2 separate regions of the Homo sapiens genome follow, and region 1 is linked to region 2. The links come from fine-mapping of genetic effects on gene expression. A gene starts in region 2. The other region holds a variant in brackets. All regions are shown on one strand. Distances are from middle to middle.

Evidence for each region. PIP is the estimated chance that this variant, and not a neighbour inherited with it, causes the effect.
Region 1: its variant is fine-mapped to the expression of DENND2A in esophagus muscle (GTEx, PIP above 0.99).

What each region holds. Positions count from the first base shown.
Region 1 is chr7:140,529,977-140,535,346 of GRCh38, forward strand. The region is part of intron 14 of DENND2A (DENN domain containing 2A); the gene reads right to left. Among named protein-coding and RNA genes, the nearest start is that of MKRN1, 53 kb to the left of the region's middle. The variant G/A (reference allele first, on the strand shown) is at 2,467.
Region 2 is chr7:140,637,810-140,643,179 of GRCh38, forward strand. It overlaps DENND2A (DENN domain containing 2A), which reads right to left and starts at 3,004. Exons shown (of 20, transcript NM_015689.5): 1 at 2,695-3,004. It overlaps LOC105375535 (a long non-coding RNA gene), which reads left to right and starts at 3,100. Exons shown (of 6, transcript XR_928047.3): 1 at 3,100-3,465. RefSeq lists a silencer at 2,900-3,194.

The DNA of each region.
Region 1 (5,370 bases), 110 kb before region 2:
TATGTGTGTATTAAAATATTATGTTCCAGTTGAGCCCAAGAGATTGAGACCAACCTGGGCAACATGGTGGGGCCCTGTTTCTCAAAAAAAAAAAAAAAATAGCCTTTGGTGGTGACATGTGCCTGTGGTCCCAGCTACTCAGGAAGCTGAAGTGTGAAGATTACTTGAACCTGGAAGGTTGAGGCTGCAGTGAGCCGTGATCGTGTCACTGCACTCCAGCATGGATGACAGAGGGAGACCCTGTCTCAACAACAACAAAATCATCATTGTTGTACATGATAAATATATGCCATCTTTATATGACAATTAAAAATAATTAAAATTAAAAAATATATGTACACATAGCCTTCTTTTCCATTCCCCAATTTGGGGGCCCCTGGACTAATAATGGTACTATTGAATCTTGTTCATTTATCCCACTGTCTCTTAACCTTCCTGTTCTCTGTCTTTGCAAATAATCGTTCTCCTGATACTCACTGGAGTCAGGAAATAGCAGCATGGCATCCATGCATCGCACTGATATTCGGTCCTTATCTTTTCTTTCAAATGATCACCCCCAAGATGAGAAAAACGCTACCCCAAGATTTCATTCTTATCCCTACACTGTCTTCTTTATTAGCTGGGTAAGAGTAACACATTGCATTTGGAAGATACCAAGAAAAAAAAAAGAGTGAGAGAATAATGAAGTTAGGACTTATATTAAGGAGAATACTATCCAGAATCCAGCCAGAGCTTAGGGTGAAGTGACTTCTGTGTCTTTCTTTTTTTTTTTGAGACAGAATTTCACTCTGTCTCCCAGGCTGGAGTACAGTGGCATGATCTCAGCTCACTGCAACCTCCACCTCCCGTGTTCAAGTGATTCTCCTGCCTCAGCCTCCAGTGTAGCTGAGATTAACAGGCATGCGCCACCATGCCTGGCTAATTTTTGTATTTTTGGTAGACACAGGGTTTCACCACGTTGGTCAGGCTGGTCTCGAACTCCTGACCTCAGGTGATCTGTTCACCTTGGCCTCCCAAAGTGCTGGGATTACAGGCGTGAGCCACCACATCCGGCCGACTTCTATGACTTTCGAAGGATCTAGATCTACATCTTCTGTCAAAGCAGAGATACCTTTCCCTAAGGCATCACTTCCTCTCAAATATTCAAGAATGTTAATGCTTTAGTTAATTCCTCACCATTTATGTTTTAGTTCCTTGATCTATAAACCACTGAATGTACTGAATTCACTTTGTTCTAAATTGTTTATTTTTTTATTTTAGGACTAATCTATGTTGATGCGTGGAGCCAGGCTACAAAGTTGCTATGCTCGTGTGCTATGGTTGTAAAGTCAGGACTTAGAAAATCAGAACATTCACATACAAGTGAGGATAGTTGTTTCTAGAGCAAGATTTTTCAGACTATAGTTTGCAGCCCATTAGTGGGTCTTGAAATCATTTTAGAGGGTTGCGATCAGCATTAAAAACAAGAACAAAAAGAACAGAATAGAAAATAAGAGAGTGTGCTGCACGTTTCCCAGCTGTAAATAACTATCTGTGTGTGAGCCGGGTGCGGTGGCTCGTGCCTGTAATCCTAGCACTTTGGGAGGCTGAGGCGGGTGGATCACCTGAGGTCAGGAGTTCAAGGCTATACTGACCAACATGGAGAAACCCCGTCTCTACTAAAAATACAAAAAATACAAAAACAAAAAACGAGTCGGGCATGGTGGCGTGTGCCTGTAATCCCAGCTACTCAGGAGGCTGAGGCAGGAGAATCGCTTGAACCCAGGAGACGGAGGTTGCAGTGAGCCGAGAATACGCCATTGCACCCCAGGCTGGGCAACAAACGCGAAACTCTGTCTCAAAGGAAAACAACAACAACAACAACAACAAAACAACTATCTGTGTGTGTGGTGGGGGCGGGTGGGAAGGCATACCCTGGGTCTGATTGTAAGATGTGCTTCTCATTGTGGGCTGCAATGAAAAGGGCTTGAAGCCAGTGATTTGGACTAGAAGACTGGGAGTGGGTGCTGGGCACGGTGGCTCACTCCTGCAATCCCAGCACTTTGGGAAGCTGAGGCAGGTAGATCACCTGAGGTCAGGAGTTCGAGATCAGCCTGGCCAACATGGTGAAACCCTGTCTCTACTGAAAATACAAAAAAATTAGCCAGATGTGGTGGCGGGTGCCTGTAGTCCCAGCTACTCGGGAGGGAGGCTGAGGCAGGAGAATCGCTTGAATCCGAGAGGCAGAAGTTGTTGTGAGTCAAGATCACGCTGCTGCACTCCAGTCTGGGCAACAGAGTGAGACTCCGTCTCAAAAAAATAAAAGAGACCTTAAGAAGGAAATCCCTGCATGAAGGTATTTTGCATGAAACCAGTCTCTTTTTATAGCACGTTTGCCAAAGTGCCTAAATGTGACTTGGAAACGAAGTGGTTCATGAGAAGATCCATGGTCCATTTCCCTAGTCTTTGAAACTCTGACTTTAGTCC[G/A]TTAAAGGAGAAGAAAAAATGCAGTATTTGTGTTTAAGATTCCTTCTACGCGTCAGACTTGTGGTTCAAGCACTTTTGACTTCACAGTTACAGAATGACAGAATTTAGACCTGGAAGAGTTCTTGGGGATTGAGTTCAGTTTCTTTTGGATTTTTAAGGTAGGAAGAGTGAGGCTAAATGAGGCTAAAGTAACTCTGAATGTAGGATGGGGCAGAGTAGGGAGAGAAGGGTCCTGCAGACTGGAGAAGGCAGGATTGCTGCTCAGAGGAATGCAGGCATGAGGAGGCACCCTACGATCCAGGCACAGTGGCATGTGCCTGTAGTCCCAGCTACTGAATCCCAGAGGCTGAGGTGGGAGGATCTCTTGATCTCTGGAGTTCAAGTCCAGCCTGGGCAACATAGTTAGATCCTCATCTCTAAAACAAAAAATTAAATGTATATAAAAAGGAGGATAGCCTATGTGTGTTTTTTTTCCCAATCATTGCAATAGAAAAACAAAACAAAAACATGTTTAACTTTTTTTCCCAACTCAAAGAAAAGGCTACCTGCTTTTTTTTTTTTTTTTTTTGAGACAGTGTCTCACTCTGTTGCCAGGCTGGAGTGCGGTGGCACGATCTCTGCCCATTGCAACCTCTGCCTCCCAGGTTCAAGCAATTCTTCTGCCTCAGCCTCCCAAGCAGCTGGGACTACAGGTGTGCACCACCATGCCTGGCTAATTTTTTGTATTTTTGGTAGAGACGGGATTTCACCATGTTGGCCAGGATGGTCTCGATTTCTTGACCTCATGATCCACCCGATTCAGCCTCCCAAAGTGCTGGGATTACAGGCGTGAGCCACTGCACCTGGCTGGCTACCTCCATTTTTACTTCCTTGTGGTCTCATTCCTAGAAGGAGGAAGTACAAGGGGCTGCTCCCTTCTCCTTGCTGTACAGCCCCTTGGGGCTCCTTGCTGTACAGCCCTTTGTGACTCCTAAAGCCCTATGTTGCCTTCAGTGACAGAGAGGCCCCCAGGGCCTGGGACACCCGGAGGCCCTGGTTCAGCTGCAGTGAGTGTGAACCATCTGGAGGAGAAGGTCGTGGGAGCAAGGTCAGGAAAGATGACCAGCAATGCCGGTGCTAGATGCAGAGGCTGGTGGAGAAACGTGACAGAAAGGAAGCCAAAGTTCACTCAGTGAACTGGATGCATGGGGCTCCAGGACAGCAGTGTTCAGGCTTGATGCGAGAAATGATGACGACTCGGCTGGGGAACCAGCTGGCCGCGTGGGAGGAGCTGCCCGTTTGTTGACTATCTCCTGTGGTAAGTTTGTTTTGAGTAGTCTGATCCCACTGTTGTGGCTGCAACAAACGTTTCTGTACCTGGTTATCATGAATACCTCGTTAGCTGGAGCCCATGGAGCACAGGGTGCTGGAGACAATACGGCAACAAGCAGGCAGGTGAAGGGTCTTATTCCTCTTGCTCTGTAGCCCTCGTCAACGTTTTTTCTTTTTTTAGATGGAGTCTCACTCTGTCGCCCAGACTGGAGTGCAGTGGCACGATCTTGGCTCATTGCAACCTCCACCTCCTGGGTTCAAGCGATTCTCCTGCCTCAGTCTCCCAAGTAGCTGGGATCACAGGCACGTGCCACCAATGCCTGGTTAATTTTTTTTTTTTTTTTTTTTTGAGATGGAGTCTTGCTCTGGCACCCAGGCTGGAGTGCAATGGTGCGATCTTGGCTCACTGCAACCTCTGCCTCCAGGGTTCAAGTGATTCTCCTGCCTCAGCCTCCCGAGTTGCTGGGATTACAGGCACGTGCCACCACGCCCAGCTAATTTTTGTATTCTTAGTAGAGACGGGGTTTCACCATGTTGGCCTGGCTTATCTCTAACTCTTGACCTCATGATCTGCCCACCTTGGCCTCCCAAAGTGCTGGGATTACAGGCATGAGCCACCACGCCCAGCCCACATCAATGTTCTAAAAACAATTCTGCCCCTAAACACTAAAAGGAAAGGTCAAATTTTGTGAATAATTCCATGAGTGGCAGCCCTTTCCTCAAAATAAATGATAGAGCAGGAAAGGATTATTTTGGATGGAGCTTGTTTCTCTCAATCCCTGATGCAAGTGGTAATAAAATTTTATTCCCTGACTTGTGAAGGCCCGAGGAGCCCTCAAGGAGGGGGATGGGAGGTGGGCACTCCTGGGACTGGTGGTCCCTTAGGAACATGCCAATAGTCAGTGGTTCTGGGGATGCTAGGGATGACTGGTCAAGAGGGCTTGCTGCAGAGTGTGGAGGTGGAGGGGCTAGAGAAGAGGCAGTGTTTTTGAAGGAAGACATAGAAAGAGAGTCCTCACTCGCAGCTGGCTTGCATTACAGTGGTGTGGAGGAAAGAAACGCCAGCACTCACAGCTGTGATCAATTGTACAAAAGTGGGGCAGGGAAGAGAAGGCCCCAGTGGGAGGTTGGCTGGGCCTCAGGGTTAAAAGTTGGGCATGGGTGAGAAGGGTTGGGTCCAAGGATGTTTTGCTGTTGGGTGGTGGTTCCTGAGTGTTGGAGCAGTATTCCAGAACATCAGGACGCACTTGTAAGGAATGCCAAAGTTTTCCTGGAGCCAACTTTTTAGTTCTGGTTGCTACCAAGCCTCTGCTCCATACTTGGTGTTCCTATGCTCAGCTGGCTTCCAACTCTCTATGAAGCAGTAAGGATCCAGCACAGAGCTTCCTCTAAGATGCTACCAGAAAAGTAAATGAAGAGTTTCCCGAATTAGAGGAACACCCCAGGAACTGGAAGGCTGATTCAGTGAATGCCCTTTAGTATCCCAAGCAAAGTAGCTCTCCTATTGGTGCTCCACTCCCGAAAACATGAGTGAAAGGTAAATTCACGTGTGGTCTGGTGCCTGGTGAAACCTACTAGGAGGTGGGAGTCACC
Region 2 (5,370 bases):
GGCTATACTATGATAAGCCTCCTTCCCTTTATGGTTGAGCACCCCGGACGCCTTGCTCTCTACATTCACAGAGATGGGTGTCAGCTCTTCCTGCACTTAAGGTACCATTGTCTCCTTTGTATAGGATTTCCCTGGCCCCATACTCTGAGATGACACCCAGTCCTCACAGAAGTGCAGTTCACTCCCCTAGACATAACAGGATGGTAGAGGAAGGCAGTAACGGGGAGTTTTATCTTTCCATCTTTTGTAACACCAGCAACGAAGATTTTTTTTTTCTATGTCACTCTTCAGTCTTTACATAAAGTTCCACATGATAAATTCCCAGCTGAGTTCAATTCCAGGAAAAATTTTGTTCTGAGAATTAATTTGTAGGCTTTCTGTTGTCCAAAATCCCAAACTATGCAACCCAGTGTATTTTTGTTTGTCCCTAAGCTGCCAGAAAACTTACAGCCAAATGCGTTATCCAAGTGTTGTAATCTGCTAAATGCAGGCCACTCAGAAGGTCCACATTCCTTTTGCTTTGCTTTGTTTTCTCCTGAGCATTTGTGTACATACTTGCTTTTAGTCTAAGTTATCATAATCTGTGCCCAAACCAGTCACCAGGTCCTGCCTCTTGATCCTGGCATCCTTTCAGTTTCTCCTGCTCCTCAGTAATTCTGGCCTGGGTGTTGCAAAAAGCCTTGGTCTCCTCCTCCTCCTCCAGGCCTCCCCACCCAACAACTAGAAGGAGCGCATCACTCCTGCTTCAGTGCATACTCCTGCCTCCTTCTGGCAGATCCTTCCTTCCCTGTGCCTCTGCCCTGACAGCTCCCGCCTCACCTCTCCCCGGCATGCACTCACATACTGCAACCCGCAGCCACACTGAATTCCCCTCACTGGCCTCTCCTAGACTCTCTTGGTGACTTTGCACATTCTGTTCTTTCAGCCTGAAACAACCTTCCCTGCTGTTTCCTTGGTGAGGCGGTTTTCAGGGCTTAGCCCAAGCATCACCTAATCTGTGGGGATTCCCTGCACCGGCTCCTCTCTGGGCTGCCCTAGTTCTATGCCATGCAGCCCTCACAGCCAGGCTGGGCAGGACTGGTTTTACTTTTTTGTTTGACTACCCAGCTAGGATGGTGTTCCTGGAAGGAAGGGGGACGTCTCATTCCTCGCTGTGCCACTGATGTCTAGCACGCATGCCTAGCACACAGAGCTGTGTAAGGGTATGAATAGAATACATGACACAGGATTTTATTAATCTTCCAGAATGAAAGGACTGGAGGCCAGGCACAGTGGCTCAAGCCTGTAATCCCAGCACTTTGCGAGGCCGAGGCGGGCAGATCACCTGGGGTCAGCAGTTCAAGACCAGCCTGGCCAACATGGTGAAACCCCGTCTCTACTAAAAATACAAAAATTAGCTGGGTGTGGTGGTGGGCGCCTGTAATCCCAGCTACTCGGGAAGCTGAGACAGGAGAATTGCTTGAACTCCGGGGGCTGAGGTTGCAGTGGGTCGAGATTGCACTACCGCACTCCAGCCAGGGTGACAGAGCAAGACTCTGTCTCAAAAAAATAAAAATAAAAAACAAACGAAAGGACTGGAGGCCAGCCTCCCGCCAGCCTTTTCATTACCAGGCCTCAGAAACCGTCTCTGACACACACACACACACACACTCGCACACTCACACATACTTCCTCTCGGAGTTCTGCTCCGTCCCACGCTGCCCACCCAGACTTTCTACTCCACTCTTTTGGTATCTGATATTTGATGATGTAAGGAGAAGGGATTTCTTTCTCTTCTTTTATGTGGTAACCACAGAGGGTTTAAGAGTTTACTAACAAGATTACTGTAGCACGCCTATTACAACTCTGTTACCCCCAGCCCATTACTGTCCGATGTCATTTGGAACCTTGGGGAAGTCACATTCCTGAATCGCATCTGAACAGCAGCTGGAAGTCAGCACCAGCTGGTTAAGGCAGGGTCACTGCACTTCCCTTGCCCAATTTACGCCCCTGGAGAGCCCTGACCAGTTTCCTGCTTCCTGTCCCAGGCCCCCCATGACAAGATTCCACGGCTGAGGTCTGGCTCTACTCCGTGGTCTCACCCAGCTCTCTGTGACCCTCCTAATACGATTGTGTCCAGACTTCCCCTGGGCTCCATCTGCTCCCAACTCCACCCTTGGGGACAAAGTGGAAGAAGTAAGACCATTCAATCATCTTTACCTTCTTGCTTTCCCAAGACTGCAAATGCTGACCGCTGTGAGGGGGGCCCGGCTGCTCAGCCGCCTCGATGCCCCGCGCTTGCACGCGCACGCACACACTCACACACACTCGCACAGACACACTCACACACAGACACACAAGCGCGCACACACACACACGCGCGCGCGCGGACACACACACACTCACACTCGCGCCCCGAGGGACCCAGCACGGCGCAGGGCGGGGGTCTACCGGCTTTCTGCAGGTCCCCGAGGCGCGAGACGGCGGCGTCCGGGCTCAGTCCTGGGAGTCAGCCCGAGCCCGGGAGGAACGCCTGGATCGCGCTCTGCACAGTCCCGGGACCAGGCGGGAACTCAGACTCCCGTCTGCAGAGCCGCTTCCCCCGTCAGGGCTCAGGCCGCGCGAGCCGTTTCCTCCCTCCCCCGCGCGTCCCCTCCTCCGTCCCCTTTCCCTCCCCAGCTCGACCCTGCACCCCCTGGCCCGGCCCGGCCCTACCTCCCCGCGGGCGGCGGCTCCGCGGGCTCTGGGGCGCATCTTGGGGGCTCCGGGGCGGGCCGGGACGGCTGGCGGCGCGGCTCGGGGGCGGGCGGCGGCGGGTGCCGGGGACGCCATGGCCCTCCGCCCTCCGCCCCTTTGTCCGCCGAGCCTCCCCCGGCCGCCCGCAAGCCCCTGGGGGTCCCCGCCGCGCGCGCTCCCGTGGGGTCCCCGCCGCCCCCGGCCCCAGCGGCGCGCTTCCCTCGGCCGGCCCAGCGCAGGCTCGCCCGCGGCCCCTGCCTCCTCCTGCCGTGGCTCCGCGACGATCTGCGCGACGCGCGCCCCCTCCTCCCGACCCATCCCGCCCGGCCCAGTGAGCTAATCCGCAGCTGGCGGGCGCCCGGCCGGTTGCCACGGCAACCCCTCTCCCAGGGCCCGGCCCCGCGCGGAGCTGCGGTAAACAGGACCTTCTGCCGGACTCGCCCCCTCGCCTCTCGGGGTGGGGGAGAGGTGGCTTAACCCTTCCTGGGAGGACGCCCGCCGCGCGCGGGCTCCATTCCACCCAGGCCCGGGCGGATTCGCGAGGTGCTTCCGGCCTGAGGCTTAGACCTGGACGTCCAAGCCTGGGGAACGGCGGCCGCGTGCCCGGCCCCGCTTACTCTAGGCAGTTAACACACTCTCGGCACCGGGCCGGGGCCGGGGGCACCTCGGGCAGTGAGTCAGGCACCACCCTTGCCCCAGGCAGCTTGCCGTCGGGCCGGGGTAATGACAGTCATGAGACCGGCGATGCAGGTGATGGGGGCCGGGGAGGGCCCAGGGCCGAGCGCGCTGCAGAAGGGCTCCCAGACCGGGCGGGAAGGGAGGTGGTCAGGAAAAGCTTCCAAGAGGAGAAGTGACTTCATAGACCCGCTGCCCCCACTCACGCAGGACACCGTCAAGGAACACAGGCTGCACAGCAGAAGTCCGCAGGGAAATGCCGTGGGCTGCGGGGAAGGCGGGTCTGGAATACAGGCTGGGGCCTTCGAGGAAGTTCCCTGGAGCTTTGACCGGGCCGGGAACATTGAATAGCATTTGCATAGGTGGAGGAAAGTGGGTGAAAGGAAAGGGTTCTGAGTGAAGGGAACAGCACCAGTGGAGGCCGGAAGCAGAGGCTAGGCATTTCAGAAACAGCCGAGTGAGGACCAAGTGGTGAATCAGGTCTGATGGGTAGGCTTAGCCAGATTTCAAGCGGGGGACGGAAAGTTTTTGAGCAGAGGAATGCCCTGATGAGAGTGAGGGGGGTCTGGCGGGGTGATTTGCGCGCGGTGGGAGCAGGCTTCAGGTCCATCTCCACACCAGAGGAAGGTCATCCTCATCTTTAGCTCAGAAGGGCTGGGAGCCATGGTCCTGCGGGACAGCAAAGAGGCCTAAAGTTCAAGCAAGGGGGAAGAGAGAAGAGAGGCTTAGCCTCACAAATCCACAGAAGGAGTGTGCGCGCGAGAGAAAGGCAGGAGGGAGACAGTGAAAAATAAAAGATGGGTGTAATGACGTAATACTGCCCAGGCAGTGCCTATAGACTGGGAGCTTGAGATTTGAGGGACTTGTTCAAAGTCACAGGAAAAAAATCTCTGTTTTCTTCTCAGCTGAGGGTTTTATGCTTTCTGGGAACTCTTTGAAGCTTTTCTAGGGCTTAAGTTCCTTAAACTCCTCATGACATACCCATTTTAACTAAGCATAGTCAACTTTTAGAGCCCACATTTGCAAAGTGCAAGCTTTTTTTTTAAAGTGTAAGCATTTAAATTATTGTTTTGTTTGTTGAAGCATTATTCAGTAAGTTTTTCACTTTCTAAATAAAGATCAGAGGCTTGGCTTTTTTTTTTTTTTTTTTTTGAGACGGAGTCTCGCTCTGTCGCCCAGGCTGGAGTGCAGTGGAGCGATTTCGGCTCACTGCAAGCTCCGCCTCCTGGGTTCACGCCATTCACCTGCCTCAGCCTCCCAGGCTTGGCTTCTTTTTTATTGATTGATTGATTGAGGCAGTCTCAGTCTCTCACCCGCGGTGGAGTGCAGTGTTGCTATCATAGCTCACTTCAGCCTCGAACTCCTGGGCTCAAGCAATTTCCCCACCTCAGCCTCCCAATTAGCTAGGACTACAGATGTATGCTATCATGGTCGGCTTTTTTATTTTTTGTAGGTCTTGCTATGTTGCCCAGGCTAATCTTGAACTCCTGGCCTCAAGTGATCCTCCTGACTTGGCCTCCCAAAGTGTTGGGATTATAGATGTGAGCCACCACGCCTGGCCAAGACTTGGCTTCTTGAGGGTTAATTATTCCCAGGGCTGCTACAACATATAAGAAAGCAAACTGGTGCAATCTTGGCTTGCAACCTTTGCCTCCTGGGTTCAAGCGATTCTTTTGCCTAAGCCTCCTGAGTAGCTGGGATTACAGGCGCCTGCCACCGCGCCACGCTCGGCTAATTTTTTTGTATTTTTAGTAGTGACAGGGTTTCACCATCTTGGCCAGGCTAGTCTTAAAAACTCCTGACCTCATGATCCACCCGCCTTGGCCTCCCAAAGTGCTCGGATTACAGGTGTGAGCCACCGCACCTGGCCTAATTTTTTTTTTTTTTTTTTTTTGAGACAGATTCTCACTCTGTCACCTAGGCTGGAGTACAGTGGCATGGTCTTGGGTCACTGAAGCCTCAGCCTCCTGAGTTTGAGTG